Homo sapiens: one gene and its partners. The protein of the gene in region 6 purifies or fractionates together with the protein of the main gene of each other region. This does not show direct contact. Each region holds a gene or a part of one and is shown on either strand. Other genes may lie near its edges. The genes, in order: SEC16A, NUP210, RPRD2, IQGAP3, LARP4B, RPS6KL1 and MAP7D1.

Region 1 (3,914 bases), on a different chromosome or scaffold from region 6:
CCCGTGCTCTGTGTTTAAAGCAAACAAAAGCTTTTGAGGATGATAAGGATCTTCCCGGGGAAGGCCATGTCTTGAGAGATGAGGTAGGACCCCAGTTCTGGCAGCAGAGTTTCAGGAGGTGCTTGGAAGTTTGCGTGTTCTGGCCGTGGTTGCAGGTGTCGCTGTGTCTGCTGTGGCTGTGCAGCTGGTAGGACCCAGTGGAAGATAATGCCAGTGCACAGATCAGAGGAAGATGCTCTGCCTGTTCTCCTTTCAGTCCATATAAAATAGAGCTGTGAACATTCTTTGTTTTCAGATGAGAGCCTAAAACCTCCATGAAGCCTTTGCTGCTGTTCCTAGTAAATAGCTTGACTTAAAATACATTGATCAGTGTTTTCTTCTTTTTTTTTTTGAGACAGTTTCACTCTGTCGCCCAGGCTGGAGTGTTGTGGCTTGAACAAGGCTCACTGCAGCCTCAACCTCCCTGGCTCAAGCGATCTTCCCACCTCAGCCTCCCGAGTAGTTGGGACTACAGGCACGCACCACCACGACCGGCATTTTTTTTTTGGTGATGGGGTATCGCTGTGTGTTGCCCAGGCTGGTCTCAAACTGCTGAACTCGAGTGGTCCTCCTACCTCCCAAAGTGCTCGGCTTACAGGTGTGAGCCACTGCACCTGGCCAGTGTTTTCTTCTTTTATCTGAATATCAGAAAGATTTCCAAGAGACCAAAATAATATACATCTGCAAAGATGTGTGGATTGGCCAGGCACGGTGGCTCACGCCTGTAATCCCAGCACTTTGGGAGGCCGAGGCGGGTGGATTATGAGGTCAGGAGATCAAGACCATCCTGGCTAACATGGTGAAACCCCATCTCTACTGAAAAGACAAAAAATTAGCCTGGCATGGTGGCAGGTGCCTGTAGTCCCAGCTGCTCAGGAGGCTGAGGCAGGAGAATGGCATGAACCTGGGAGGCGGAGCTTGCAGTGAGCCGAGATCGCACCACTGCACCCCAGTCTGGGCGACAGAGCAAGACTCCGTCTCAAAAAAAAAAATGTGTGGATTAAACTACAGAGTCCTCCCCTTTGGTTTAATTTTTCCTTTGATTGGCTAAACTTATCTGTTTGTTCATGAGGGTGGTGCTGACAAGAAGAAAGACTGATAGAAAGAAAAGAACTTTCCTAAAGATATAGTCCTTGAATTTTTGCCTTAAGAGGCCAGGTTAACTATTCAAGTTTGTATCTACTATGTTTTATTTAAAAACTGATGGAGGTTTTTGCCCCTTTCTTTTCTGTAAGAGGTTTCTTGGCAATTCTGCCTGTTGTTGAAAGTGTTGGAATCCAGTCTGTGCCTTGTAAAGCTGCTTTAAGTTTCCTGGGAGTTTCCATTCCAGGCACAGTTACGGCTCCAGTTCAAAGGTAACATCTTGCTGGTGGTCCTTTCAGACCTTAAGCCAGTCACAGTACAAAAACGGAGACCTATGAAGAGGTGTGATAAAAGGCATTTAGATGAATATATTTATTTTGCAGTGCTTTTTAAAAAAATGATTGTGTCACTTTTTATTTATTTATTTTTTTAAAATAGAGACCGTCTTGCTCTGTTGCCCAGGCTGGACCGCGGTGGTATAATCATAGCTCACTGCAGCCTCGAACTCATGGACACAAGTGATCTTCCTTCCTTAACCCCCTGAGTCCCTGGGACTACAGGTGTGTGCCACCATGTCTGGCTAACTTTCTTCTTTTGTAGAGACAAGGTCTTGCTATGTTGCCCAGGCTGGTCTCGACCTCCTGGGCTCTGGCAGTCCTTCCACCTTGACCTCCCAAAGTGCTGGGATTACAGGCATGAGCCACTGCACCCAGCCTATTTTGCAGCTTTTATAACTATACTTCATAATGCTCTTTCATCAAAGAAAATGGAAGAATGAATTTTAAACTTTTGTATCCCTTTTGAAATTTAAAATTAACATGTATGGAAAGTATGATATAAAGTTTTCCTTTTTTTTTTTTTTTTTTGAGCTAGGGACTCACTGTGTCACCCAGGCTGAAGGGTAGTGGTGCTGTCATAGCTCACGACAGCCTCAACCTCCCAGGCTGACGCAATCCTCCTGCCTCAGCCTCCTGAGTAGTTGGGACTACAGGTGTGCACCACCATGCCTGGCTGATTTTTGTATTTTTTGTAGAAACGAGATCCCCCTGTTGCTCAGGCTGGCCTCGAATTCCTGGGCTCAAGTGGTCCTCCCGCCTTGGCCTCTTAAAGTGTTGGGAGTACAGGCGTAAGCCACCATATCTGGCCAGTTTTTCTTTCTTAATAGAAGAGTTGGCTCTTCCTGGATCTAGGGATGGTTTACAGGAAAACATTGAGTATCTGTGGGTCTGGTAGCATATCACAGCAGTGGTCAGGTTCCGCACTGTCCCTGTTGTTGTGGCGCGGGTCTGCGGCAGCAATGGGCCCTGTGAGTAGAGGATCCCAGGGGAGGGAGTGGCCATCTAGACATACTCCATCAGCTCGCAGCCAGGCCATCCAGGGTTCTCACTCTGTCCCCTGCCCCCCAGAACAGTTCCTCAGGGACAGGTGTTCTCTGCTGGGGTGGGGTGTAGGGGAGAGAGAGTCCTTGGGATTTAAGTGACATAAAATCATGTTCAATGTTTCTCTTTTTCCTTAGTTTTCCTGATTGCAGCTAGGACTTTGAATATATGGATTTTATGCTGATTTTCTCTTTTTCTTTTCCAGCTCCAATTAAGGAACAGCTATATCCTGCTTCCTTCTGTAAGCAGCATCGACTTGTGCAAGGGTTCAGTCATGCAGCCACCGCCCCAGACGGTCCCGTCTGGCATGGCTGGGCCACCTCCAGCCGGGAATCCTCGGAGCGTGTTCTGGGCTAGCAGCCCTTACAGGAGACGGGCTAATAATAATGCAGCAGTGGCTCCGACAACTTGCCCGTTGCAGCCGGTCACGGATCCATTTGCTTTTAGTAGACAGGCGCTCCAAAGTACACCACTGGGCAGTTCGTCCAAAAGCAGTCCACCTGTCTTGCAAGGCCCAGCCCCCGCAGGGTTTTCTCAGCACCCCGGTTTGCTTGTTCCTCACACACATGCCAGAGATAGCTCTCAGGGACCCTGTGAGCCCCTGCCTGGACCTCTGACACAGCCCAGAGCACATGCCAGTCCGTTTTCTGGTGCATTGACACCTTCAGCACCTCCTGGGCCTGAGATGAACAGGAGTGCAGAGGTCGGTCCCAGTTCAGAGCCTGAAGTTCAGACTCTGCCATATCTTCCTCACTACATTCCAGGAGTGGATCCTGAAACGTCTCATGGGGGCCACCCTCATGGGAACATGCCTGGGCTCGACCGACCCCTGAGCAGGCAAAACCCACATGACGGTGTGGTCACCCCAGCAGCATCCCCTTCCCTCCCTCAGCCTGGTCTGCAGATGCCAGGACAGTGGGGGCCAGTGCAGGGAGGCCCACAGCCCTCGGGGCAACATCGTTCACCCTGCCCTGAAGGACCTGTTCCCAGCGGGGTGCCCTGTGCCACCAGCGTTCCTCATTTCCCCACCCCGTCCATCCTACATCAGGGCCCTGGTCATGAGCAACACAGCCCTCTGGTGGCTCCCCCAGCAGCCTTGCCCAGTGACGGAAGAGACGAGGTGAGCCACTTGCAAAGTGGAAGCCACCTGGCCAATAACTCTGATCCTGAAAGTACATTCAGGCAAAATCCCAGAATTGTGAATCACTGGGCAAGCCCAGAGCTCAGGCAGAATCCAGGAGTGAAGAATGAGCACCGGCCCGCCTCTGCTCTTGTGAACCCCCTCGCCCGGGGAGATAGCCCAGAAAACCGTACGCACCACCCACTGGGGGCTGGGGCCGGGTCTGGCTGTGCCCCGCTAGAAGCAGACTCAGGAGCTTCAGGAGCTCTGGCGATGTTTTTCCAAGGGGGAGA
Region 2 (3,914 bases), on a different chromosome or scaffold from region 6:
AGGAATGGTCTGGTGCTGCTGCCAGGCCCTGCCCTCTGTAGCTCCTTCCCCAAAGCACAGCCCCTCCCCATCCCTTCGTTGCCTTATCAATTCCTTTTTAGCAACAGACAGCAGGTGTGAGGCTCAGAGCTTTCACCACATACACATCTGAGTTAAAAGCCAATCACATTATATAATAAGTACAATTAAAGGACTCAACCATAATCTATTTATGGCAAATTATATTTGTTTTTCCTTAAAGGTAGTATTTCATCTCCTTTTAAAATGAATTTAGTAAGGTTAAAAAAAAAGGTGGAGACAATTTGAAAATAAAAGCTAAGTAAATAATTGTACACGTGTTCCACAGATGTACTACAGGTCACCTGGGCATGGCTGAAATTTGGAAGCCCCTGATTTAGCCCAGTGTCCTTCTTTGCTTAAGTCTCCCAGCCTGTGCTGTCCACTATGGCGGCCACTTCCCACAGAATTCACTAAAATGGTGAATTCAGTTCCTCAGCAGCAGCAGAGATCCGTGTGTCTCCTGGCTAGAGGAACTGAGTGAGACTATGCAGAGACAGGATGCCCCACAGGGGCAGGGGACCCCCCCACCGACTTGGCAGAGCTGTTCCAGAAAAGGGCTGGCAAATGCTTTCTGTGAAGGTCGGACATAAGCATTTGGGCTATGCAGCCCATACAATCTCTGCTATGACCACACAATCTGGCAGTGGTAGGGTGACAACAGCCACTGACCATACATAATGCATGGCACAGCTGAGTGCCAACAAAAATTTACTTGCAGAAAACAGGCACAGGCTGGATCTGGTCTCCGGGCAGCAGTTTTGGAGCACTGCTCCTGAGTATCCTGCAGGTCTGCCTGTAGGCCCCCGTGACTGGTGCCGAGCCCCTGCCCAGGTAGCCCCCACCCAGCTTTGCAAGCGTCCGTGACTCCACAGGTTCCCTTGCTCAGGATCTATCTTACCTTCCAGGCTGGTCAGAACAGTGGCCAGACAGAGCACGTCCCCCACCACCATGGCCCCAGACAGCTCTGGGGAGATGGCCTGTAGGACAGGCAGGGGCATGAAGTCCGAGAGGCCCGGGTGCTCTGCGTCCCACACACGGAGCAGTGTCAGGCCCACGCTGACTGTGCGGACAACGCAGGTGTTGTTGGTGGGGCCCTTCCCGATCTGCACAAAGTCGTCTCTAGGCACAGGAGAGAAAGGAGGGCTCTCAGTCTCGGGAAAGAAGCTTCCAACTCCCAAAGGGAGAAACGTAATCCATGTCCTCTGCTGAGCAAAGCATTCAACTGACTGAGGTCCCAGGTGTGGCCCCAACTCGAGGTTACCAAGCAGTGGCCCCAGATGAGGGACCACTGCAGGCAGGTGGCACAGGCTCGACCTCCTCACTTGTCATGCCAGAAAGCACATGCAGCTCGCAGCCAAACAGTGGCAGCAGCATCATTCCTGCATTTCAGAAAGGAAGCTGAGGCCCCGAGGGGAAAGAGATCCAGAGTGCTTCCTCACGCTCTTCCCACCAGGGAACTGGACATGCCAGAAAGGGAAGGCTGCCCTTACTATGCAACCTGACTGCAGAAGCAGCCTCTGCCCCTTTCCTCCTCTGAAAAATGGGGATCATCACGTGACCGTGACGCAGGCCTGGCATAAGCATTACATGAGGTCAGCAGTGGGGAGGCACCTGCCACAGGGCAGGTGCTCAGTCAATGTTGGCAATGGCAGCTTTGGTGCAGAAGTGTGGACTGCGTGGGGTGACAGTTTGGGTTAGGGATCATGGCTGCATCCTTGCCTCCACCACACCTTCTGACCCTGAGTGCTGACTAGGTCTCTATCAGGTGCTCCTGCTACAAGAAGGCCAGAATGACCTGCAGTGCAGCCAAAGGGCTGGGAGAACTGGGCTCCATTTCCTCCAGGACATGCCCTAAACTGATGGATGGCAATTATGTGCGCACACACGGAGTGCCATGGTTTGCCAGCGGTCCTCATGACCACTCCCTCAGCTGAAGGAAAGCCCTGGAACCTAGGCCATATTGCCCAACGTGAGAGGTGTGGAAACAGATTTTTGGATGGTGACCTACTCACAGGGCCCACGAAGGGCAGAGCTGGGGCTAGAACCAGGCCTGACTCTAAACCCCAGTTCTTTCCATAAGGCAACACCCCTGACACCTGTCTTTGAATGCATTCAGCAACAGGGAAACACAACTGTGGCAGGACCTGTGGGCAGCCGAAGCTGAAGGGCCAATTTCCTGTGCCTCGGGGAGCACTCCCTGGAGCTGCCCCATGCCCTGTTTCCTCCTTTGGGGGCTGATGCCTGTCTGTCTTCCTCTGAGCTGGTCTACATCCCCCAAGGGCAGTGGTGTTTCCTCGTGGCCCTGCATGGTGCAGCATGCCCACATCTCTTGGAAACTGAAGTAATACACATCTTCCTTCAACAGCAGCAGACTTTCTGTGTTATCCCCAGTTGTCTCTACCAGGTACCAGACAGGACTTCATAGGAGAAATGACCCTTGCCCACATCCTACCTGTTAGTGGCAAAGTTGAGGACCGAACTGTGAGCATGGAAGACATCTCCAGAGTTGTCGTGGAAGTGGACAGTGAAGGTCACGGTCATTCCCAAAGGCACGGCCACCAGGGCCTCCTTGTTCTGGGTGTGCAGGACAGGGCTCATGGAAACCCTCAGGTAGGAAACAGGGGATACCTAAGGGACAACATACAGGTATGATGAGGATTCAGTGCCAGGGACTGGCCTCCAGGAAAACCCACCTCCCAAGGAGGGGACACCTGCCCCCAGCAGGATCCACCTCAGGAACAATGCAGGGCTGGACTTAGGGGTCCTGAGAGGAGTAAAGGCCACACTCCCCAGAGTGTCCCAACCTAGTGACAAGGTTCTTACTTCCCAACACAGCAGACTGGCCTCTCTATGAGAAAACCCACCCAGGAGTGTCCCAATCCATGACTTGAATAAATGAGATCACTATTTACATTGCAAGAGGGCCCCCTGGGCTGCAAATGTCCAGTTTCTTCAGAGAACCTGGCTCTTGGGGCATTTAAAGAAACGAAATCCTCCTCGATCGCAGGGGCAGCGCTAAGCAGGCCACAGCATGCCCTGCAGGCCACCAGGGGAAGGAGGGAAATGGGGATTTCTGGAGCCCAAGAACCCGAGCTCCATAAACAGCAGCCCTTGTTTCTCTGAGTCCAGGTGAAAATCTATCCTCGCTCAAAAGCTAGTGCTCCAAAGGTCTGAATTTCTTTAACAAAGTTCAGTGGTGCAGTGTCTGGTATACAGCTAGTGCTCAGTACATATTTGTTGAAATAGGATGAGCAGTCAGTCACTTTCACTCACCAAAAACTAGAGCGGGGGATTTGCTGCCAGGCACCCATTTTGAAACAAAATGATGTGAATTAATGAAAGAGGTCTGTGACCCAGGCAGAGTCTAAAGATTTAAGTGAGTGTGTGTCTTCTGTCATCCAGGGTTCAGCAAGTGGTGATGATGAGACATGGAAAGAAAATTCCATTCAGCAAAACCCCAGGACCTGACCCAGGGATGCTGATGGAGAAGGTCCCATCCGTAAGGAACACAGAACGGCAGAGGGCAGTGCCATGATATGGCAGAAGGACACGGCCCAAACCAGACAGACCCCATCACTCAACCCCCATGCAAGCTTAAGCAAGTCACTCTCACTCTGAGCCTCAGTCTCCTTGTCTGGAAAATGGGCCACCTCATTCTCAAAACCACAGTGGATGTCACGTACTGGATGTCACGACTTGTATGGCAGGTACTGAGCACAACATTCAATGCTCTTAAGAACAGACCATGTTCCAGACACTGGGCTGGCCCAGAACAGGAGCTCCACCATGGGTGGTGATAACATCAGTGGCCAGGCACAGTGGGTGGAGCACCCGCACTCCAGTCAGGAAGCTGT
Region 3 (3,914 bases), on a different chromosome or scaffold from region 6:
AGTGGCTCACGCCTGTAATCCTAGCACTTTGGGAGGCTGAGGTGGGTGGACTGCCTGAGGTCAGGAGTTCGAGACCAGCCTGGCCAACATAGCAAAACTCCGTCTCTACTAAAAATACAAAAATTAGCTGGATGTGGTGGTGGGCACCTGTAATCCTAGCTACTTGGGAGGCTGAGGTTGCAGTGAGCTGAGATTGGGCCACTGCACTCCAGCCTGGGCGACAAGAGTGAAATTCTGTCTAAAATAAAAAAAAGGATAATGACCACCAGGCATGGTGGCTCATGCCTATAATCCCAGCACTTTGGGAGGCCAGGAGTTTGAGACCAGCCTGGCCAACATGGAGAAACCCCATCTCTACTAAAAATACAAAAATTAGCCAGACATGGTGGTGTGGGCCTGTAATCCCAGCTGCTAGGGAGGCTGAGGCAGAAGAATCACTTGAACCAGGAGGCAGAGGTTGTAGTGAGCCGAGAGCACTCCACTGCACACCAACTAGGCAACAGAGTGAGACTCCATCTCAAAAATTTTAAATAAATAAATAAATAAATAAATAAAAAGAATAATGAATTAACTGTGTTATACATTTTATGGCTCTGGATTCATCAGAAATGGAATCCAGGATTAATTTAAGCCAGAGACAAACATTCACAATTCGAGTCCCTCTGGCATATGTCAGTTACCTTGCAGTGCAGGGGCTGACTGTGTCTGGGTTTTGGAAAGTGCAGACAGAATGCTCTCTGGGGTGATCTCCACCTTGGAGAGGATATTTGCCAGAGGGTTGTGAGATGTTGTCGTGGCAGGTGCAGGTGTTTTCAGGCCACTGGTGAGGTTGCTGGGGCTGGTGGGCGTTCCTGGAGAAGGTCTTGATGCAGGACTGACCCCTGGTGGCAGAAAGATGAACTCAAGAAAATGCAATTCAAAATGACTTCAATTTCCGATACTTCCCCTCACTTCAATGAGTTTGATATATTTAACAGGAATTCTTCTGTGGTTGATCCACAAATGGTCCATCATAACATGACATGTACAAAAAAAAAAAAAAAAACCCTGAAAAGATTATCTCCTTTTACTTGGAACACCATTAAAACAAACAAGTATTGGCCGGGCGAGGTGGCTCACACCTGTAATCCCAGCACTTTGGGAGGCCGAGGCAGGCGGATCACCTGAGGTCAGGAGTTCGAGACCAGCCTGACCAACATGGGGAAACCCTGTCCCTACCAAAAATAAAAAATTAGCCGGGTATGGTGGCAGGCGCCTGTAATCCCAGCTACTCGGGAGGCTGAGGCAGGAGAATCATTTGAACCCAGGAGGTGGAGGTTGCAGTGAGACAAGAGTTGAGACACAGTGAGACTCTGTCTTGAAAAAAACAAGTATTAAGTGATTTTCATAGTTTTGAGAGCCCCAATATTTCTTATTTATTTTTAAAAAATAGAGACAGGGTCTTGCTACATTGCCCAGGGTGGTCTTCAACTCTTGACCTCCAGTGATCCTCCCACCTTGGCTTTTCAAAGTGCTGGGAATTACAGGCATGTACCACCACACCTGGACAATCTTTTTTCTCCACCAAATGGCACCTACAGTTCAGAGCCCTGTAGGCGCTCAATAAATACTGCTGGCTGACTGGATGCTGAGAGCCACTGCAGTTGTATAACTCAGCCACTGCATAATTTCATGTGACTGGTAAGTTATATGCTTTTGAAATAGCTTTTAAAATGAGATTATTTAAGAAATTTCCTTTATATTTTTACATTTAAAAACACTGGGTTGATCTTTAACACAGGAAATAAAATATATAAAGAGAAAAACATTTGTTATTTTAAAAAAGATAAATATGAACAGATATTTCACAAAGAAACTTAAGTGAGAAGCAAAGGAAAAAAATTTTTAACATCTTTCATAGAAGAAATGGAAATTAAACAACTTTTTAAGGCTGGATTTGTAGACTGCACAAGGCAAGTAACTGGAGAAGGTAAGGAACAACAGAAGCTTTCATATATTAGTCATATAAAATAGCACTTTTTTGGATATCAATTTAGTTATATATTAAAATACTTTATTTTTATTTAGTTTTTGAGATATGGTCTCACTGGGTTGCTCAGGCTGGAGTGCAGTGGACATTCACAGGCGTGATCACAGTGAACTACACGTCCTGGAATTCCTGGCTTCAAGTGATCCTCCTGCATTTGCCTCCCGAGTAGCTGGGACTACACGGTATCCCACCTTGCCTGGCAAAATTTATTTAAAAAATTTCGGGCTGGGTGCAGTGGCTCATGATTGTAATCCCAACATTTTAGGAGGCCAAGATGGGAGGAACACTTGAGCCCAGGAGTTCAAGATCAGCCTGGGCAACATAGTAAGACACTGTCTCTACCAAAAAACCCACAAAACTTAGCCAGATGTGGTGGTGCACACGTGTGATCTCAGCCACTCAAAGGCTCAGGTGGGAGGATCACTTGAACCCAGAAGTTTGAGGTTACAGTGAGCCATGACTGCACCCCTGCACTCCAGCCTGGGTGATGGAGTGGGACCTTGTCTCAAAATAAATAAATAAATGGCCGGATGCGGTGGCTCACGCCTGTAATCCCAGCACTTTGGGAGGCCAACGCGAGCAGATCACGAGGTCAGGAGATCGAGACCATCCTGGCTAACATGGTAAAAGCCCGTCTCTACCAAAAATACAAAAAATTAGCTGGGCGTGGTGGCAGGCACCTGTAGTCCCAGCTACTCAGGAGGCTGAGGCAGGAGAATGGCGTGACCTGGGAGGCGGAGCTTGCAGTGAGCTGAGATCGCGCCACTGCACTCCAGCAGCCTGGGGGACAGAGTGAGACTGTCTCAAAATAAATAAATAAATAAATAAAAATAAAATTCCATTAAAAAGGTTTTATATACTTAACCCTTGCAAAGGGTTATTCATAAAATTTTTATAATTTACAGGTTTTTTTTTTGTTTTTTGTTTTTTTTTGAGACAAGAGTCTCGCTCTGTCAACCAGGCTGGAGTGCAGTGGCTTGATCCTGGATCACTGCAACCTCTGCCTTCTGGGTTCAAATGATACTTATGCCTCAGCCTTATGAGTAGCTGGGATTACAGGTACGTGCCACCACAGCTGGCGAATTTTTTCTTTTTTTGAGACGGAGTCTTGCTCTGTTGCCCAGGCTGAAGTGCAGTGGCGTGATCTTGGCTCACTGCAACCCCCGCCTCCCAGGTTCAAGTGATTGTCCTGCCTCAGCCTCCCAAGTAGCTGGGACTACAGATGCATGCCACCATGCCCAGCTAATTTTTGTATTTTTAGTAGACAGGGTTTCACCAAGTTGGCCAGGCTGGTCTTGAACTCCTGACTTCAGGTGATCCGCCTGCCTTGGCCTCCCAAAGTGCTGGAAATACAGGCGTGAGCCACCAAACCTGGCCTAATTTTTGTTTTTTGTTTTTTTTTGAGACGGAGTATTGCTCTGTCGCCCAGGCTGTGCAGTGGCGCGATCCTGGCTCACTGCAAGCTCCGCCTCCTGGGTTCAGGCCATTCTCCTGCCTTAGCCTCCCGAGCAGCTGGGACTACAGGCGCCCGCCACCATGCCTGGCTATTTTTTTGTATTTTTAGTAGAGACGGGGTTTTACCATGTTGGCCAGGATGGTCTCGATCTCTTGACCTCGTGATCCACCCGCCTCGGCCTCCCAAAGTGCTGGGATTACAGGTGTGAGCCACCACGCTCGGCCATAATTTTTGTTTTTTTAAGTAGAGATGGGGTTTCGCCATGTTGTCCAGGTTTGTCTCCAACTCCTGGCCTCAAGTGATCAACCTGCCTCCACCTCCCAAAGTGGTGGCGTGAGCCACCACACCTGGCCCTATAGTATTCTTCATAACAGTAAAAAACTGGAAACATACTAAGTGCCTAATAATAAAGGATTAGATAAGTTACCA
Region 4 (3,500 bases), on a different chromosome or scaffold from region 6:
ACATCAGCCAGAAGCAGACACCTGTGCTCACCAGTAATGAGAACTCTGGAGGCCTACAGGATGAGGGATACAGCTTTAGCCTTGGGAAGCCTCGGGCTACAGAGTCATGGGGCCCCACCCCTCTCCCCACTTCACACACTGAAACAAGCACCAACACTAGGGCTATGGGGGGCACTGAGAGACCGTCTGGGAATGCTCCCCTGGAAGGCCTGCACTCAGAAGAGTGGTCTGCTAGAATGCCTGGAGGCAGGAGAAGGTAGTAGGCAGGTGGGGGGCCAGGGGCAGGTTGGGCCCGCTGGAGTGAAGACTGAACCAGGGTCTTCCCAAAGAAAAGGTGGGGATGGCCAGTAGAGGTATGTCCCAAAACAGAACAGACAGGTAAATGCCCCCAAACATCCTGTGCCGTCAGAAAGATCCATTGTTGGGAAGTCACAGCTAGTGTCTGTCCGGAATCCTTTATGCCATGGCCTGGGTTTGGTTCTCCTTTGGGCCACTCTTCCCCTGTGGTGATCTATGAGGCCCTCCCATGTGTGACACCATGCATTATGGTGTTATACCTTGATATTCTTCATAAGCGATGCCCTGCCCCAGCCATATCCTGCAGAGGCTGGGCTCTGGGGCACTTTCTTAATGATATGCAGAAAAATGCTCAGGCCTCCCTTTGTTGCTGGTGCCCATGGGACCTTCACTGGTGTGGGAGCAGAATGGTAGGACCTGGTAGACCCCTCCAGCGTCTGTGTGTCCCCAGGAAGCAGCCCACAAGCAGCTGATGAGCCGACGCCAGGCCTGTACAGCCCAGACACCGGAGCCACTGCGACGACACCGCTCACTGACAGCTCACTCCCTCCTGCCACTGGCAGAGAAGCAGCGGCGCGTCCTGCGGAACCTACGCCGACTTGAAGCCCTGGGGTTGGTCAGCGCCAGAAATGGCTACCAGGGGCTAGTGGACGAGCTGGCCAAGGTAACAACCTGGGCCTGGGCTCCGTGTGCCTGTGTGTACGTGTGTGTGTGTGCGTGCATATACATGTTAATCCATAGTGTTGGTGGGCCCCTCCTGATGAGTCCTCACCCAAAATTGTCACCAGCCAGAGGAAGGCTGAGGGTCCTTTTTGAAGGAAAGATTTTTTTTTCTTTTTTTTTTTTTTTTTTGAGACAGTCTCACTCTCATCCAGGCTGGAGAGCAGTGGTGTGATCCTGGCTCACTGCAACCTTCACCTCCTGGGTTCAAGTGATTCTCCTGCCTCAGCCTCCCAAGTAGCTGGGATTACAGGTGCGCGCTGCCATGCCCGGCTAATTTTTGTATTTTTAGTAGAGACACGGTTTCAGGCCATGTTGGCCTGGCTGGTTTCGAACTCCTGACCTCAGGGTCCGCCCATCTTGGCCTCCCAAAATGCTGGGATTACAGGTGTGAGCCACTGCACCCAGCCAAATTTTTGTATTTTTAGTAGAGACAGGGTTTCACCATGTTGGCCAGGCTGGTCTCAAACTCCTGACCTCAAGTAATCTGCCCACCTTAGGCTCTCACAAAGTGCTGGGATTACAGGTGTGAATCACCACTCCTAGCCTGAAGGAAAGATCTTGAAATTAGTTAGAGAGGAAGGTGTTCTTGCAACTCTCTTTTTTTTTTTCTTCCCCACATTAGCTGGGTAATGTGCCCAGGTCAGAAGGTTTGAGAGAAGCATATCTCACACAAGAGCATGAAAACCCAATCCTCAGCTTATGACCTACAAAAGTATCCTTGCAACTTTCTTTTACTAAAAAACAAACAGCCTTGAAACCAGTTAGTCCTCAACGGGCAGAGGCCCTGAGGACATGCCTTGAGGATTTGGAATACCATCCTTGAGATTTTCCTTCTAGGAAAACAGCCTTGAAGCCTGTTCTTCCGAAGAGCCTCACAGTGTGTAGCTCTTGGGCCTGTGTCAGGCCCTAAGGCTCTCCTGCCAGGAAGGACCACTCATCCCTCCATCTGTTCCCCAACCCCAGGACATCCGCAACCAGCACAGACACAGGCACAGGCGGAAGGCAGAGCTGGTGAAGCTGCAGGCCACATTACAGGGCCTGAGCACTAAGACCACCTTCTATGAGGAGCAGGGTGACTACTACAGCCAGTACATCCGGGCCTGCCTGGACCACCTGGCCCCCGACTCCAAGTAGGTGCTGCTTTCCCGTACTTGGAAGGTTACGAGTGACTTCTCACCCCTGCCCATGTCACCTTTGCCCTGCTATCTCCCAGCTTTGAAAGGGGAATCTCACCCAGCACAGCACAGTCCCTTCCTAAGTCTGGTCTTTGAGCCTCATTTACAAAGTCTTGGGCTCAAGTGCAGCCCCCCTCCTCTGTCTTCCATCAGTGAGAAGTCTTCCTCGGGGTCTCATTTCCTTTCCAGCCACAGAAAACAAGTTTCTTTGGTGGTAAAGTGTTTATTGGATGAATTCTCTGGGGCCTTCTTTTAATCAGGAGTTCTGGGAAGGGGAAGAAGCAGCCTTCTCTTCATTACACTGCTGCTCAGCTCCTGGAAAAGGGTGTCTTGGTGGAAATTGAAGATCTTCCCGCCTCTCAGTATGTGTCTTTGGAGGGCAGGATGTCAGCCCCTTCCTGTCCTCTAACCTGGGGGTGGAGCTCTGGGCTGGGCACCGGGTGGAAGAGAAGAAGCATGGTCCCGATCTTGAAGGAGCTGCTAGAATGATGGTGGAGACAGAGCATGCCCAGACAGAAAGTGAAGGGCTGTGGACATGGTCTAGCACAGTTCTAGATGCCCTGAGGCAGAGGGTACTGGGAAAGCTTTCCAGAGGTGAGAACAGCTGCGTAGGGCGGGGCAGATAAAGAGATGGTGTGGGGAGCAGAAGTAAAATGGAGAAGACAGCGAGCTGGGCCCTCTGGGAGTGACAGAGGGAAAACTGGTTCTGGATGACACCGCTGCCCAGGATGAGGAGCAGTGGGTGCAAGAATGTGGCTGTAGCCCTGGAAAGAGGCAGTGGGTTCCTGTTTTGAATCCTGTTCCTGACAGCTTCAGAAACGTCATCTTTGACATCACGCCGGGAGATGAGGCAGGAAAGTTTGAAGTAAATGCCAAGTTCCTGGGTGTGGACATGGAGCGATTTCAGCTTCACTATCAGGTGAGGGGACAGTCCCATGAGCCTGCAGGACATCTGCTGGGCTTTAGGTGCTGGCCTGAAGAGAGCAGCTGGCCTCACTTTCCTAGTCCTCAGATGACACCAGCTCAGTTTTTCACCCAATCAGTATCGTCTGTTCCTGAAGAGAAGGGTGGGGGTCTGTGCAGCCCAAGCCCCCCTTTCCCCATGCCCTGACACAGACCCCACTGGCAAGCATCAGGGAGAGTGGAGTGGGCTACTGGTGTCAGAAGCAGGATTAATATTTGAAGCCCTATCACATGTCAGGGACTTTACATGTTACCTCCTTTAATCCTCTCCACAGCTCTGAAGTATTATCCCTATTTTACAGGCTCTAGGCTAAAAGGTTAAGAAGCTGGCTAAGTCATAGG
Region 5 (3,914 bases), on a different chromosome or scaffold from region 6:
TACCAGTTTTTACTATTAGTGCATGTTGGGACTAAACTTGGGCATTGAGATTACTTGTGATGGTAAGTTTGAATATAATCTGCAGAGGAAATCAAGTTGTAGAAACTTAAATATTTGAGTGTATTTGTATGGACAATTTTTATAGCAATATAAAAAGCATGTGATTTTACTTTCTAAGGACAACAAGCTAAGCAACCTAGGAAAATCAGTTTTGTTCTTCTATCTGGGCAGAGAAGTTTTACTATTTGCAAAGTGTTTGGGGGGAAATTTGAACCTAATCTTCATCTCCCAGCAGACTTCATTGTATTTTGGAAGATGCTTTTAATGGTATTGAGAAGTAAGCTCTGTAAGGAGGCGTGAGGAGTTAGTAGTTTTCCTGCTTTTAAGGGAAGCATCTTATTTGTGAGGAAACTAACGCACATATTATAAAGTGTTAAATGGTATAAACAGTATGTGGGGTTCAGAAAAGAAAACACAGAAACCTGAAAGATGGGTTTTAATTGGATGGAGGGGGAAAAGGGGAACGGAAGATAGAGTAACCATTTTTGTGGAGTGGAGTGTGAGCTCTGCCAGCCCGTGTGGCGAATGTGGTCGGATGATATTGAATCAGGTGCAGGGCCTTCACAGTTTTATAGGGGTTTAATGTAGAATTAACATGGAGAAGAACAAGGAGATATATCAAGAATGACTTTTGGATGTTATGATCCTAATCCTTTTCCTTCCTGTCTGGTATTTCCTGAACTGCATTCTCCTAATCTGAAATTGGGATGAATACTAGGAACTCAGTATTCATCATTTTCCACCAGGTCAAGGTTCTTAGCCAGTGGTCTTTGGGAGACTTCTATGGCATCTGTTAATACTTACAAAATTGTGTACAAATCTTGTTTGTGAGAATTTGGGGTACACGTTCCATAGCTCTTATGAGGTTATTTTAAGGGATCTGTGACCCAGGGAGTGTCAAGAATCATTATTCTAGGTTCTGTTCACCATAATTTAATTATATATTTCCCTATTTGAGCTATTGAGTGAACTATTGGTGCCTCTTATTCATAAGGTTAATCGAATGGAATTTTGTACTTAATTTTGCCCTTAGGCTTACAAATACCTTCGAGAAGAAGTCAAAACTTTTCAAGGAAAACCAATTAAGGTAAGCAAGACCATTGGTTATACTTTGTTTATTTGCAAATTGATGTTCTTAAGTATTCTAATAGAAACTTACATATTTTCAAACAGGCACGGATAAAAGCAAAGGCAATAGCTATAAACACATTTTTGCCAAAGAATGGATTTAGACCCCTGGACGTGAGCCTGTATGCCCAGCAGCGCTACGCGACGTCGTTCTACTTCCCTCCCATGTACAGCCCCCAGCAGCAGTTCCCCCTGTACAGCCTGATCACTCCCCAGACGTGGTCAGCAACGCACAGCTATCTTGACCCACCCTTGGTACGTCATTTCTTTACTAGGAATTTATGTTGTAGACACTATGCTAGATAATTTGAAGGATTAAAATCCTCATCTAATAGGAAGCCAGATATGTGTGCAGTCTGACATACTAAAACAGACCTTCAAGTTATGTGGGGGATTTTAAATGTAGCTGAGAACAGAGCTTATGCATAAAGAACTTTGGATTGCTGTGAGCACAATCCTTGCACAGCCCGTCTCCCCTCTTGTCATGCAGCTCTTAGCAAGACGCAGAGGGCGATAAGTGCTGTAGTGTACCTGGCGTCCCCTACACAGAGTACAATGCAAGGGGGATTAACTGAGGAGGAAGAGGTGTTTAATAGGCTTCTGACAGCAAGGCCAAGGAGAAGGCCTGCTGTTTTACCAGCCTTATTTTACTCACTTCTCACCAGCATTAGAGTTGGTCGACAGGATTAATTTTTATGGATTTTGGCCTTTGTTAAGGCCTATGGTTGGAATTCATAAGTCTGTACTGGATCTAGACATTGTCTCTTTGTGTGCTGCTATAGATGCTTGAAAGATCAAGTGCATTCTGGGTGGGAATTAGCATGAGTTTGGTGGCATTGGATGCACGAGAGTCAGCAATACACGGATGAGCATGTCCTTGAAGCTGAAGTCTAGTTGAGAAGTGAAGATGGGTTCATGGCCTAGAGGTTTGCATGAGGTAGCAATGCAGGTTAGTTGGAATTGGAGAGATTGAAGGGTAGCATACATAGAAGGTTATGGTCAGAAAGCAGAAATTGAGTTAGTAACTTTGAGAAGAGTTCATGTCCAGGGTTTCGCTGTGGACTAAGGGAAAGACTGAGTGGTCCTCAGGGTCGGATGGCTGGGAGCCAGGCACCCTGATGTGCAGGGATGTCACCGCTGACAGGCAGAAAAGGAGGGTAGGTGCAGAGCAGAGAGAACTTGAGAAAACAAGTGCCTGTATACACGGAAAGTAAAGATACGGGTCCATGAAACAACTCAGGCTGGAAAAGTCAAACATGCCAAGGAGACACGTGTACAGAATGCCAGAACACTGACAGGTCTTATCAGGGATTGTGTTGTCATCTAGGTTGAGCTTTTCAGGTTAAGTATGAGTTTTTCAGAAGGAATCAAAGAGAAGTTTCATGAACAGAAGATGGTCGTAGATTCATGGGTGTCTGAGCTGAAGCGTACACCGGGTGGCAGGGAGTTGGGGAACGAGCTGGCAGTTTCCAGGCCTAACTGCGCAGGTGCTTAGCTGTCCTGAGGCATGTGGGCTTTGGCCTAGTGCTTGTGGGAAGGTGTCTGAGGTTTCTAAGCGGAGAAATGAAACCATACTCCATTTAGAAAATAGCTCCTAAGGCCGTGTGAAGGGCAGGTGGGGACAGGGAGAGATTTTCAGAGGACCCCAATTCCCCCTGAGTCTGGAACCACCGCAGTGTAAGAACCTTTGGTAAAGTTACTTCTGTCTCTTTTGAGTAAGTCCTGATGGTAAGAAAAGTTTCTGGCTTTTTGAAGTAGCACATTCTATAAAAGTGTACCCATAGCTGAATACTTCGTTTTCCCAAAAGCATATCATGAGAGAACCTCAGAGAGACTTGAGTCCGTAGGCTCTGGGTGTTGAAGAATCATCGCTGCACGTGGCTTGCCATGCTAGTCCTTTCAGTTCTTCCTGCAGCAGTTGCTTCTTCCGTTTCTTTAATCATGGTTGACCCTCTCGGGGATCCTTGGGGTTCTGGGTCAGCTTATGGCCTTGACTTATGTTGTATGTTCAGGTTGCGGTGTGTGCCAGACAGCTGGTCCTGCTCTGAGTCTGTGATACTGGGGCTCTCCATCGCAGCCTTTTACTTGTGCTAAAACATGTGCGTCCTTTGTTCTGCAGCTGAAGAGATTGTGCCTATTAATCCCCAACAAGTAATAATAGGAACGCATTAATAATCAACTTTATTTTTTATATATGACCAATTTTATTTTTTATCTTGAGCAAAATTACTGGAATATCAGGGCTCTGTCTGTAAAATGACTTGCTGGAAATGATTAGTCCTCATTGCTCTGCCCATGATTTACAGCCTCAGATCCAGGTCTGCATTCATGGCTCTTCAAGTGTGATGTATTTTCTTTTTCTTTGAGACAGAGTCTCTCTCTGTCGCCCAGGCTGGAGTGCAGTGGCCGGATCTTGGCTCACTGCAAGCTCCGCCTCCCGGGTTCACGCCATTCTCCTGCCTCAGCCTCTTGAGTAGCTGGGACTACAGGCGCCCGCCACTACGCCCGGATAATTTTTTTGTATTTTTAGTAGAGACGGGGTTTCACCATGTTAGCCAGGATGGTCTTGATCTCCTGACCTTTTGATCCGCCCCCCCTTGGCCTCCCAAAGTGCTGGGGTTATAGGCATGAGCCACTGCGCCCGGCCATGTGTGATGTATTTTAAAAAGTCCGATTCTTACAGAGTGAAGAGTTTCTCAAGTAGCAAATTGAAGATTCTAACTTCC
Region 6 (3,914 bases):
GAGGATTCAGCCCAGGTGAGGGCATGTGGAGGCAAGGCCAGCACCCTGGGGTTGTGACTCCTTGGCTGTTGGCCTGCCCTGCGGACATTCCCCAGGGAGGCTGTGGCCAGCCATGGTCGGGGTGGGAACTGGGCCCTGAGGCCAGGCTGCTGGGCAGTGAGGAAGGCCACAGCTTGGGATCAGGGTAGGGGAAGGGGCACTGGGCTTCGATCCTGGGCAAATTGAATTGATTTTCTCATCTACCAACCAGGAATTCCAAATGCCTACCTTCCCTACATCTCTGGATTGTTGAAGCCATTCTGAAAGCCCTTGGTGAGGGCCAGGTGTGGTGGCTTATGCCTGTAATCCCTGTAATTTGGGAGGCCAAGGCGGGTGGATCACCTGAGGTCAGGAGTTCAAGACCAGCCTGGCCAACATGGTGAAACCTCGTCTCTACTAAAAATACAAAAATTAGCTGGGCATAGTGGTGCCCGCCTGTAATCCCAGCTACCTGGGAAGCTGAAGTAGGATAATCACTTGAACTCAGGAGGCAGAGTTGCAGTGAGCCTAGATCAAGCCACTGCACTCTAGTCTGGGCAACAGAGACAGACTCCATCTCAAAAACAAAACAAAACAACAAAAAACAAAAAACCAAGAAAGCCCTTGGTGAGTGGAAAGGCTGTGAGAATGTCAGTGATCACATCTGCCAAGTCACATGGCCTCTCTGAACCTTGCTCTTTTTAAGTACAAAACGGGGTCATAGCAGCACTTCCTTCAGGGGGTCCTGAAGAGGATTCTGTTAAAGCAGGCAATTCAGGCAGAGCAGCAGCCTGCACCTGCCGCAGAACACACCCTTGATAACCTGTCGTGATTATTACCAGTGTCATCCGAGGGGAAGCCCACCCTGGCTGTAAAGTGGTTACTCTGTGCTAAGCACTTTACATAGGTTGTTTAATTTTATCCCCACAATCCTGCCAAAATTCAGGCCTGAGCCTCAGAGAGGTTATGTTGCCTACTGTCCCACTGCTAAAAAGTGGTCAAGTCAGGACCTGAACCCAGACAGGCTGATCCCGGAGCCCTGCAGACTTTACTGGAACTGGGGGCACAACCAGGTGACCCTGGCAATGGCCTTCCCTCCTGAGCCTGTTTCTCCATCATCAGTGAAAGGAAGGCAGTGGACTAGATGAGAGCGCCCAGGACCCTTTTCTCAGCAGGAGCGAGGTGTCCTCTCCAACCACCAGAGGTCTCTCCTCCAACAGCCAGAGACCGAGTCCAGCCTGGGCTTGGCTCCCTGACCAAACTTGTGCAATGTTAGAAAAAGCAAGGAAGAAAACTCTGGAGTCATTTAGGAGAACAGAGTTTCCCACAAATCCTGACACCCCAGATAATTCCCCACTGTCCCTTGCCAAGTGGGATTCCCCACCACCTGGTCCTGGGCAAGGGCCTGTAACTGACAGAGTCCAAAAAAACTAGCGAAGGAGGGAAGGCTGAGGAGGCCAGAAATAAACCTTGATCCATACACTGAAAGATTTCTGTTAAAAACATATTAAAACCAACCTCAGTATTCAGAAATAATTAGACTAAAACATTAACAGTGATTATCTTGGAGTTCGGCAGGATTCAGGGGATTTTCTTTTTCTTCTCCTTTTTCTTTCATTATATTTCAAAAGGGCAGCAAAGCAGCAGGCATTTTCCCATTCATCCAACCAAACAAGAAACTCCTTTTACTCAGTGGTTTGGAGGATGGAGGACTGTCTAGTGCCTTGACTTCTTTGTTTATTATTTATTTTTTTGAGACGGAGTTTCACTGTTGTTGCCCAGGCTGGAGTGCAATGGTGTGATCTCAGCTCACTGCAATCTCTGCCTCCCAAGTTCAAGCGATTCTCCTGCCTCAGCCTCCCAAGTAGTTGGGATTCCAGGCATGTGCCACCACACCCAGCTAATTTTGTATTTTCAGTAGAGACGGGGTTTCACCATGTTGGTCAGGCTGGTCTTGAACTCCTGACCTCAGGTGATCCACCCACCTTGGCTCCCCAAAGTGTTGGGATTATGGGTGTGAGCCGCTGCGCCCAGCCCCGCTGACTTCTTTGAACCTCAGTTTAATTCTCTGTAGGACAAGTATTAAAATGCAGCACTGTCCAATTGAACTTCTTATCATGATGGCAGGATTATATGTCTGCACTGTCCAATATGGAAGCCAGTAGCCACATGGGGCCATTGAGCACTTGAAATGTGACTGGTGCAACTGAGACACAGATGACTTCATTTTAATGAATATGAATGCACAGAGGCTTATGTGCCTAGTGACTACTGTGTTGAACAGCACCCTATAAGGCTTCGTTCCCCCATGGTGACTGTGAGGATTTAATGCCACAGCTCTGTAAATGAGAAGGTTCCATACAACTGTCGGGTGAGCCTTCCATTTGGGAAGATGGAAGGCAGTTCTGAGTGCTTTCTCTCACCTTTTAAAAAAGAGCAATTGTTTTAAATAAAGAGACCCACTGAATTCTTGGGACAGAGGGACAATTAAAGCTTTGGTGAAACACGGTAAACCTTTTCTTTAAAGATGCACAAAGTATCAAAATCCCAGGAGGACTCTCCCATGGAACAAACAAGCCTAAAGGTTTCAAACAAGTTCTTAAACTCAAAGGTCCACAGGGGCCAGGCATGTGAGCAAATAGGCAGGGTGGAGGCGCAGAAAGGAGGGCTGGTGCCCCGTCTAAGGCAGGCATCTCCTCCTCCACTCCCTGCTGCCACAGGGGAATGGGAGGCCAGCGTTTCCAGATCTGATTTTTTCAAGAGAAGCAGGAAATCTGGACTTTTATAAGAATCTGCACATTTTCAAATGTTGGTAACAACTAAAAAAACCCAAAAAACAAACAACAAAAAAAACACCCCTGTGTTTAAGCCAAATAAAAGAAGAAGTGACTTGGATGACCTTCTTTTTCTTCCTCCACCCTGTCTCAGAGCCTGGCTCCTGCACGAGGCTCAGCAAATACCCGGTGATGTCTCCCTGGCCCCCAGGCTCTGAGGCCAGGCCCTCGGGTATTCTGGCTGCTTGCCAAGTCCCGACCCACCCACCTCACTGCTCCCTGCCACCATCTCTTCAGCCCTTAGTTATCCTAACAGCCGGACACGTTAGGGGTCACTCAAGCATCATCCCGAGCAAGCCCTTTGCTTCCTCCCTGGGCCTGAGGGTTGCTGCTGGCTGGCACTGCCCACTTGCCCAGATCTGTCTGGGCACAGCTGTGGAATGGAACAAGGGTGACAGTATATCCAAGTCTGGCTGCAGGGACCCAGGCCCAGGGGCAGTAACACCTTTCCTAATTTGAGGAAAGTGATGCTCCTGGCTTGGGCATGACACAGGGAAAGGAAGTAGGATCTCAGGAGGGAGGTGAAGTCCTTAAGTTGAGTACCCAAGACAGGATAAAAAAGAAAAAAAAGAAGGGTAGTCCTGAAATAGAATGCGGCGGGCCACTGGCTCACGCCTGTAATCCCAAGTGCTTTGGGAGGCCTAAACGGAGGTGGAGGATCACCTGAGGCAAGGAGTTCGAGACCAGCCTGGGCAACACAGCGAGATCTCTCTACAAAAAATAGAAGACAATAGCAGGGCTTGAGACTGTGGTCCCAGCTACTCAGGAGGCTGAGGTGCGAGGATTGCTTGAGCCTGGTAGGTCGAGGCTGCAGTGAGCCGAGATCACGCCACTGCACTCCAGCCTGAGCTACAGAGCGAGACCCTGTGTCAAGAAAAAAAAAAAATGGTTGGGCTTGGCTTTAATTTGTGCTTTCCATCTGCAGGGGCCTCGAAACACTGGATTCCTAAACCACTTTCCTGAGGCTAAACAAGTTTGGGGAATTCTGTGTCACAGTGTACATCTGCACCTAAACACTCTAAGAACTCCGATCATTAAGAAACAAAGCCATATAACTTCAAC
Region 7 (4,672 bases), on a different chromosome or scaffold from region 6:
TTGCAGTGTGCCGAGATCGTGGCATTGCACTCCAGCCTGGGTGACAAGAGCAAGACTCTGTCTCAAAATAAATAAATAAATAAATAAATAAATAAATAAATAACAAATGGCTAGCACTTATTGGGCACTGGCTATGTGCCAGGGCCTAGTCTAAGTGTTTTCTGTTTTCATCTAATTTAAGGATGCCAATGTCTCTATGAGATAATTTCTAGCATTATTCTCATTTTACAGATGAGCAAACTTAAGACTTAGGTTAAGCAACTTACTGAGGTCACACAGAGGTAAGTTACGAAGTGGAGACTTAAACTGTTTAATTCCAAAATCTACACTCTTAAACAAATCGACTTCCAATTCCTGCTCCCACCCTCCCCTATATTTCATACCTCCCTGCTGGCACCGGTTGCAGAAGCATAACCACAATAATGGTAATAACACTTTATTGCAGGTGTCTGGTGTCTGCGTGCCAGATTCCTTGAGTTAAATCATCTCTAACCCTCACATTAACCCCACAAGGTTGACAACACTGCCCCTATTTTCCAGGGGCAGAAACTGTGGCTCCAGGAGGTAAGTCACTTGCTCCAGTCCAGTAGCCAGTACATGGCTAACTGGGATTTCCATCCAGGTTTTCTGACCTGAAAGTGGTCCCCACACTTGTCCTCTACTCCACACCACCCCCTGTTACTGCTCAGTGTCCAAGTGCAAAAAGGAACTCAGAGGGAGCAGGGTTCGTGTCACATGCTCTCGGAGTGTCAGGCCCATGCCTCAGACTATCACAGGGCACATGCTGTGAGCACATTTACTCCCAGAAAGCCCCACAGAGGACTCCTGTCACCTTTGACTATTCTGTGTGGGGAACTGCCACCATCCTGATCCAGGTTCTCATGTGACTCCATCTAGATCCCTGTGTATAGAAGAGTCCTCTCAATGCAAGAAGCCTATATGCAGTCTGCCCACCGGCCCCTGACGCAGCCCTCCCCGCCCACCGAACATCCCCCCTGCCCCTAGGAGAGCCAAGCATCTCACCCATGCTCTCATATTCAGTCTAGGCATCCTACCCAAGTATCCTAATTATAAACTAGCCACCAGCTCAGGCTCTGTATCCCAGTCACCACCCCCATTCAGGCCCCCAACTATCCAGTGCCAGAGGCCCTCAGGTGCAGAGGGCCAGTAAGCTGAGGTTGGACTCAGGCTGGGCCTCCCTGGGTGTCCCCTCTCAGGTTCAGCCAAACCAGGACAGACCCAGCCACCCTTGTTTCCAGCCCAGCCTACAAGCCTCCTGAAACCCACCAGTCTGATGGTAGCCTCCCCTCCCTGTTCTCCCAGGTCCCACACCCAGACAGTCCCCTAGAAGCATCCTCGCTGGCATGGGGAGGAGCCCACCCACAGCCCATTGGCCCCACCTTATCCTGGGCTCTCCGCACCCACACGAACTGTTTCATCCTGTGCCCACACCCCAAGGGGCAGGGAGGTGACAGGATTAGGCTCAGGACTCCATGGGGGTGTGGGGATGGGGCCACCTCCCCCCTGAGTCAATGGGAACAGAACTTGGGTCTTCAATAATCATGTTCTTCCCTCCCCTTCCAGGAAGAAAGAGAAATCGCCTCCCTCCAAAACCAAGCCCAACCAGAAACCTGTCCCCACCCCCTCATCAGCTGCTCCCAGATCCGAATGGGATTTGCAGAAGTCCTGAGCACTGGTGGTTGGTGGGGTGAGGGAGGGGAGGGGAGCTTTGGTGGTCTAAGGTGTGGGCAGAAAGAGAGAAAAAAAGAGAGTAAGGGGGGAGGTATCAAAGCCTCAGGCTGGGGAATGATGTGGCAGGTCCAGGGAGTGCCGGCTTGGAGCCTTTACCTCATTCTCTAGTGGGAGATTGGGGCCCAGAGAGGCTGGGAAGGAGGGCAGGCAGGAGAAGCAGATTTACTTCTGTCCCCCTCCTCCCCGAATCAGGCTGGGTGGGCTCCAGAGTAGGCCTGGCTGCAGGGGAGGCGGCCCACTCCCCAGCTCCCGCCCTCACCCCAAACAATGCCGCCTCCCCCTCCCCCTCGCCTTTATCCGGCGGGTTACTTGGCAGCAGCGGCTAGAGACCTCCCTCTCTCCTCCCCTCCCTCCTTTCCCCTCCCCGCCGGCCCGCAGCAGCAACAGGCCCTTTGCGCGGCAGCTGGACGGATGGGGTGGGGGCGAGGTCTGGGCCAGGGCCTGAGGGTACGGGCACTAAGGCCGAGGCGTCGGTATGCAGGGCCCAGGCCTGAGAATATGGACCCCCGACACACTCAGGCTGGGGTCACATGTGCCACGGGGGATGGGGAAGGGGACGGAAGCCCTAGCTCAGTAGAAGAGGATCTTCAAGGCCCGGGGTGAATCGGGAAGGGACGTGGGGGCGGGGAAGCTGAGATGGCACTAAGCTGGGGCAGAAGGGTCACCCCAACAACTCCCGCGCGGGGTCCCTGCGGCTCCCGACGCCCGATGCGTCCGGCACCCGGGGTGGGGGAGGGGGCAGCTGTCAGAGGATGCATCGCGAGCCTGGAGCCGCCGCCGCCGCAGCCTTTATTTTTAAACTTCCAAGTGGTCAGAGGGCGCGGCAGCGGAGGGGTCCCCGCCCAGCCGGCCGGCCTCATCCTCGGCCGCCCTGCAGCCCCTCCATCTACCCCCATCTCGCCTCCGCGTGGCTCCCGGCATACCTGGGGGTGCGCCCGCCCCCAGCTCCGCACGCGGGCCGCTCTCCATGGCTGCGGCGTCACTGGGGGTCTCGGGGTCTCAGCGGCGGCGGCGGCGGCGGCCAGTGGCCAGGACAGGGGTCCCGCGGCGCATCACGCCCGGCCCGGCCCGGCCCGGCAAGTAGCGACTCGGAGGCGGGGGCGCTCCGGGGAAGGTCGAGGCAGGTGGCCCGCGAGTCTCGGAGGTGCCGGTCGCCCGGGGTCTCTCGGCTGCGGTCGCGAACCCGTTCCCCGCCCGGCGCCGGCCCAGTCCCGGCCTCGGCCCAACCCTATTGTACCGCCCGGGCTGGGCCTGGCCTCTCGCTGGCGCGTACCAAGTTCGAGGCGGGGGGGTCCACCCCAGCAGCGCCCCGGGACCCAGCCCCCCGCGCCCGCGCCGTCCGCGCCGTTCGCGCCGCCCCCGCCCCGGAGCCCCGCGCCCGCAGCCTCCCGGCGCCTCTCCCACGGCCACGGCCGAGCGGGCTCCACGGCTCCAGGAGTTCGCCGCGCTAGCTGCCTCCCCCTGCGTCCGCGTCTTGGTACGCGCCGCAGCGCCTGAGGACTAAGTAGGGAGCGCTCGGGTGACTCACCCGCCGCGGGGACTGGGGGAGAGGGGGAGCAGGGCTGGGACTCCCCTTTCCCACCCTGGAGTTTGGGGGCTCTGGCACTGGGGCTGAGAGGGCAGCTTCGAGTCCAAATTCTCGCTCAAACCCACCTAAACCAAAGCGGCCCGGGGGACGTCGGGAGGCATGAAGGAGAGTCACAAGGAGACCCCTGAAAGGGTTTCGCTTTCTCTCCCCTGCTGATGGCTGGGCTGGGGACAGGTCTGGGAGCCTTGCTGCCGCCCTTGCTCCGGCATTCTGCGCTTGTGTCTTCCCTGCTCCTCTGGGGGTAATTACAGCCCTGCGCAGCTGCCTTACCCAGGTCTCTAATCTGCTGGGTCCCTCCCGGCTCCAAACTGGGTGGTCCTAGCCCTGGACCTCCCCCACCCCCACCAGACGACCCCGCCAATCACCCCAGAAGGATTTTCTCCCAGTGGTCTGTCGATGAGGGGGTGGTGACCCCCTCCAGAATCCACTCCCCAAAGTAGCCCTGCTTCCCAGCCCTCCAGAATGGACTCCCAGCCCCCTTGTTGGTGCCAGCTGAGGTGAGGGCTTCAAGCCAAGCCAGGCCCAGCCCGGGGCAGAGTGGGGAGCTTGCTGGGAAGGTGGATGGATGATGGTGGTGCTGCTGCAGGGACTTGGGTTGCGGGGGAGGAGGAGGGGCAGCTGTGCCCTGCCCACCCTGGCCCTGCCCTTTGTCCTGACTTCTAGAAGGTCAGTTCTCTAGTTCTTCATTGTCCAGAGATTAGGCCCAGTGAGATACTGTCCCCCTTGCCCCCCTTCCCTCCAGTTTCTCCTTCCTTTAAGCAGCTCCAGAAAGCGGCCATTTGGAGGGATAGAGTGGGAAACAAAAGGGTCAGGGGCTCAGGCAACCTGGGAGCAGCCTGTCCTGGGATGTGTGCGTATCTGGGGGCTTGGACACTCTTGGGAAGGCCTGGGAAGGGAATAGTGTCCCCTCTGGCCCAAAAACATTAGAAAAGGATGATGATAGAAGGGCGGCAACTGGAGCCAGTAACCTTGAGCTAGTGACTTAACTTTTCTAAAATCTAATTTGCTCTCCTACAAAATCAGAAAAATAGTAGTGCCATGAGGTATCTTGGGGTCTTTGTAAAGATTAAATAAGGCAATGGAAATGAAGTGCTGAGCACAGAACCTGGCATCTAGGAAGTGCTCAGTAAACAAGTATAATGGTGATGAAGGCATTGATGAGTAAAAGTGGAAGGACGAGGAGCAGATCCCCCATCTTTGTGTCAGTCATCTTATCTGCAGGGTGGGGGGACTGCGGGGATGACGGAGTTCATGACAGTCCTTTGTGAGGTCAGGGGCCTCACAGCCTGCCTCTTCCAGAGCTGGACAGGCCAGACCTGACTCAGGCAGTGA

What was found.
Region 1: the proteins of RPS6KL1 (region 6) and SEC16A purify together in Homo sapiens (affinity purification with mass spectrometry; one large-scale study listed by BioGRID and IntAct). This does not show direct contact.
Region 2: the proteins of RPS6KL1 (region 6) and NUP210 purify together in Homo sapiens (affinity purification with mass spectrometry; one large-scale study listed by BioGRID and IntAct). This does not show direct contact.
Region 3: the proteins of RPS6KL1 (region 6) and RPRD2 purify together in Homo sapiens (affinity purification with mass spectrometry; one large-scale study listed by BioGRID and IntAct). This does not show direct contact.
Region 4: the proteins of RPS6KL1 (region 6) and IQGAP3 purify together in Homo sapiens (affinity purification with mass spectrometry; one large-scale study listed by BioGRID and IntAct). This does not show direct contact.
Region 5: the proteins of RPS6KL1 (region 6) and LARP4B purify together in Homo sapiens (affinity purification with mass spectrometry; one large-scale study listed by BioGRID and IntAct). This does not show direct contact.
Region 7: the proteins of RPS6KL1 (region 6) and MAP7D1 purify together in Homo sapiens (affinity purification with mass spectrometry; one large-scale study listed by BioGRID and IntAct). This does not show direct contact.

What each region holds. Positions count from the first base shown.
Region 1 is NC_000009.12:136,476,477-136,480,390, reverse strand, and holds part of SEC16A (protein transport protein Sec16A), read left to right. Parts: intron 1-1,560; 5' UTR 1,561-1,682; intron 1,683-2,706; 5' UTR 2,707-2,775; coding exon 2,776-3,914. UniProt on the Homo sapiens protein: Acts as a molecular scaffold that plays a key role in the organization of the endoplasmic reticulum exit sites (ERES), also known as transitional endoplasmic reticulum (tER).
Region 2 is NC_000003.12:13,326,259-13,330,172, forward strand, and holds part of NUP210 (nuclear pore membrane glycoprotein 210 precursor), read right to left. Parts: intron 2,689-3,914; coding exon 2,513-2,688; intron 1,180-2,512; coding exon 959-1,179; intron 1-958. UniProt on the Homo sapiens protein: Nucleoporin essential for nuclear pore assembly and fusion, nuclear pore spacing, as well as structural integrity.
Region 3 is NC_000001.11:150,461,494-150,465,407, reverse strand, and holds part of RPRD2 (regulation of nuclear pre-mRNA domain-containing protein 2), read right to left. Parts: intron 882-3,914; coding exon 681-881; intron 1-680.
Region 4 is NC_000001.11:156,527,566-156,531,065, reverse strand, and holds part of IQGAP3 (ras GTPase-activating-like protein IQGAP3), read left to right. Parts: intron 1-748; coding exon 749-961; intron 962-1,636; exon of another isoform or gene 1,637-1,736; intron 1,737-1,983; coding exon 1,984-2,150; intron 2,151-2,455; coding exon 2,456-2,557; intron 2,558-3,005; coding exon 3,006-3,114; intron 3,115-3,500.
Region 5 is NC_000010.11:826,914-830,827, reverse strand, and holds part of LARP4B (la-related protein 4B), read left to right. Parts: intron 1-1,093; coding exon 1,094-1,147; intron 1,148-1,233; coding exon 1,234-1,443; intron 1,444-3,914. UniProt on the Homo sapiens protein: Stimulates mRNA translation.
Region 6 is NC_000014.9:74,912,958-74,916,871, forward strand, and holds part of RPS6KL1 (ribosomal protein S6 kinase-like 1), read right to left. Parts: intron 3,564-3,914; coding exon of another isoform or gene 3,516-3,563; intron 1-3,515.
Region 7 is NC_000001.11:36,154,467-36,159,138, reverse strand, and holds the start of MAP7D1 (MAP7 domain-containing protein 1), read right to left. Parts: upstream 2,980-4,672; 5' UTR 2,722-2,979; coding exon 2,676-2,721; intron 1-2,675. UniProt on the Homo sapiens protein: Microtubule-stabilizing protein involved in the control of cell motility and neurite outgrowth. Facilitate microtubule stabilization through the maintenance of acetylated stable microtubules.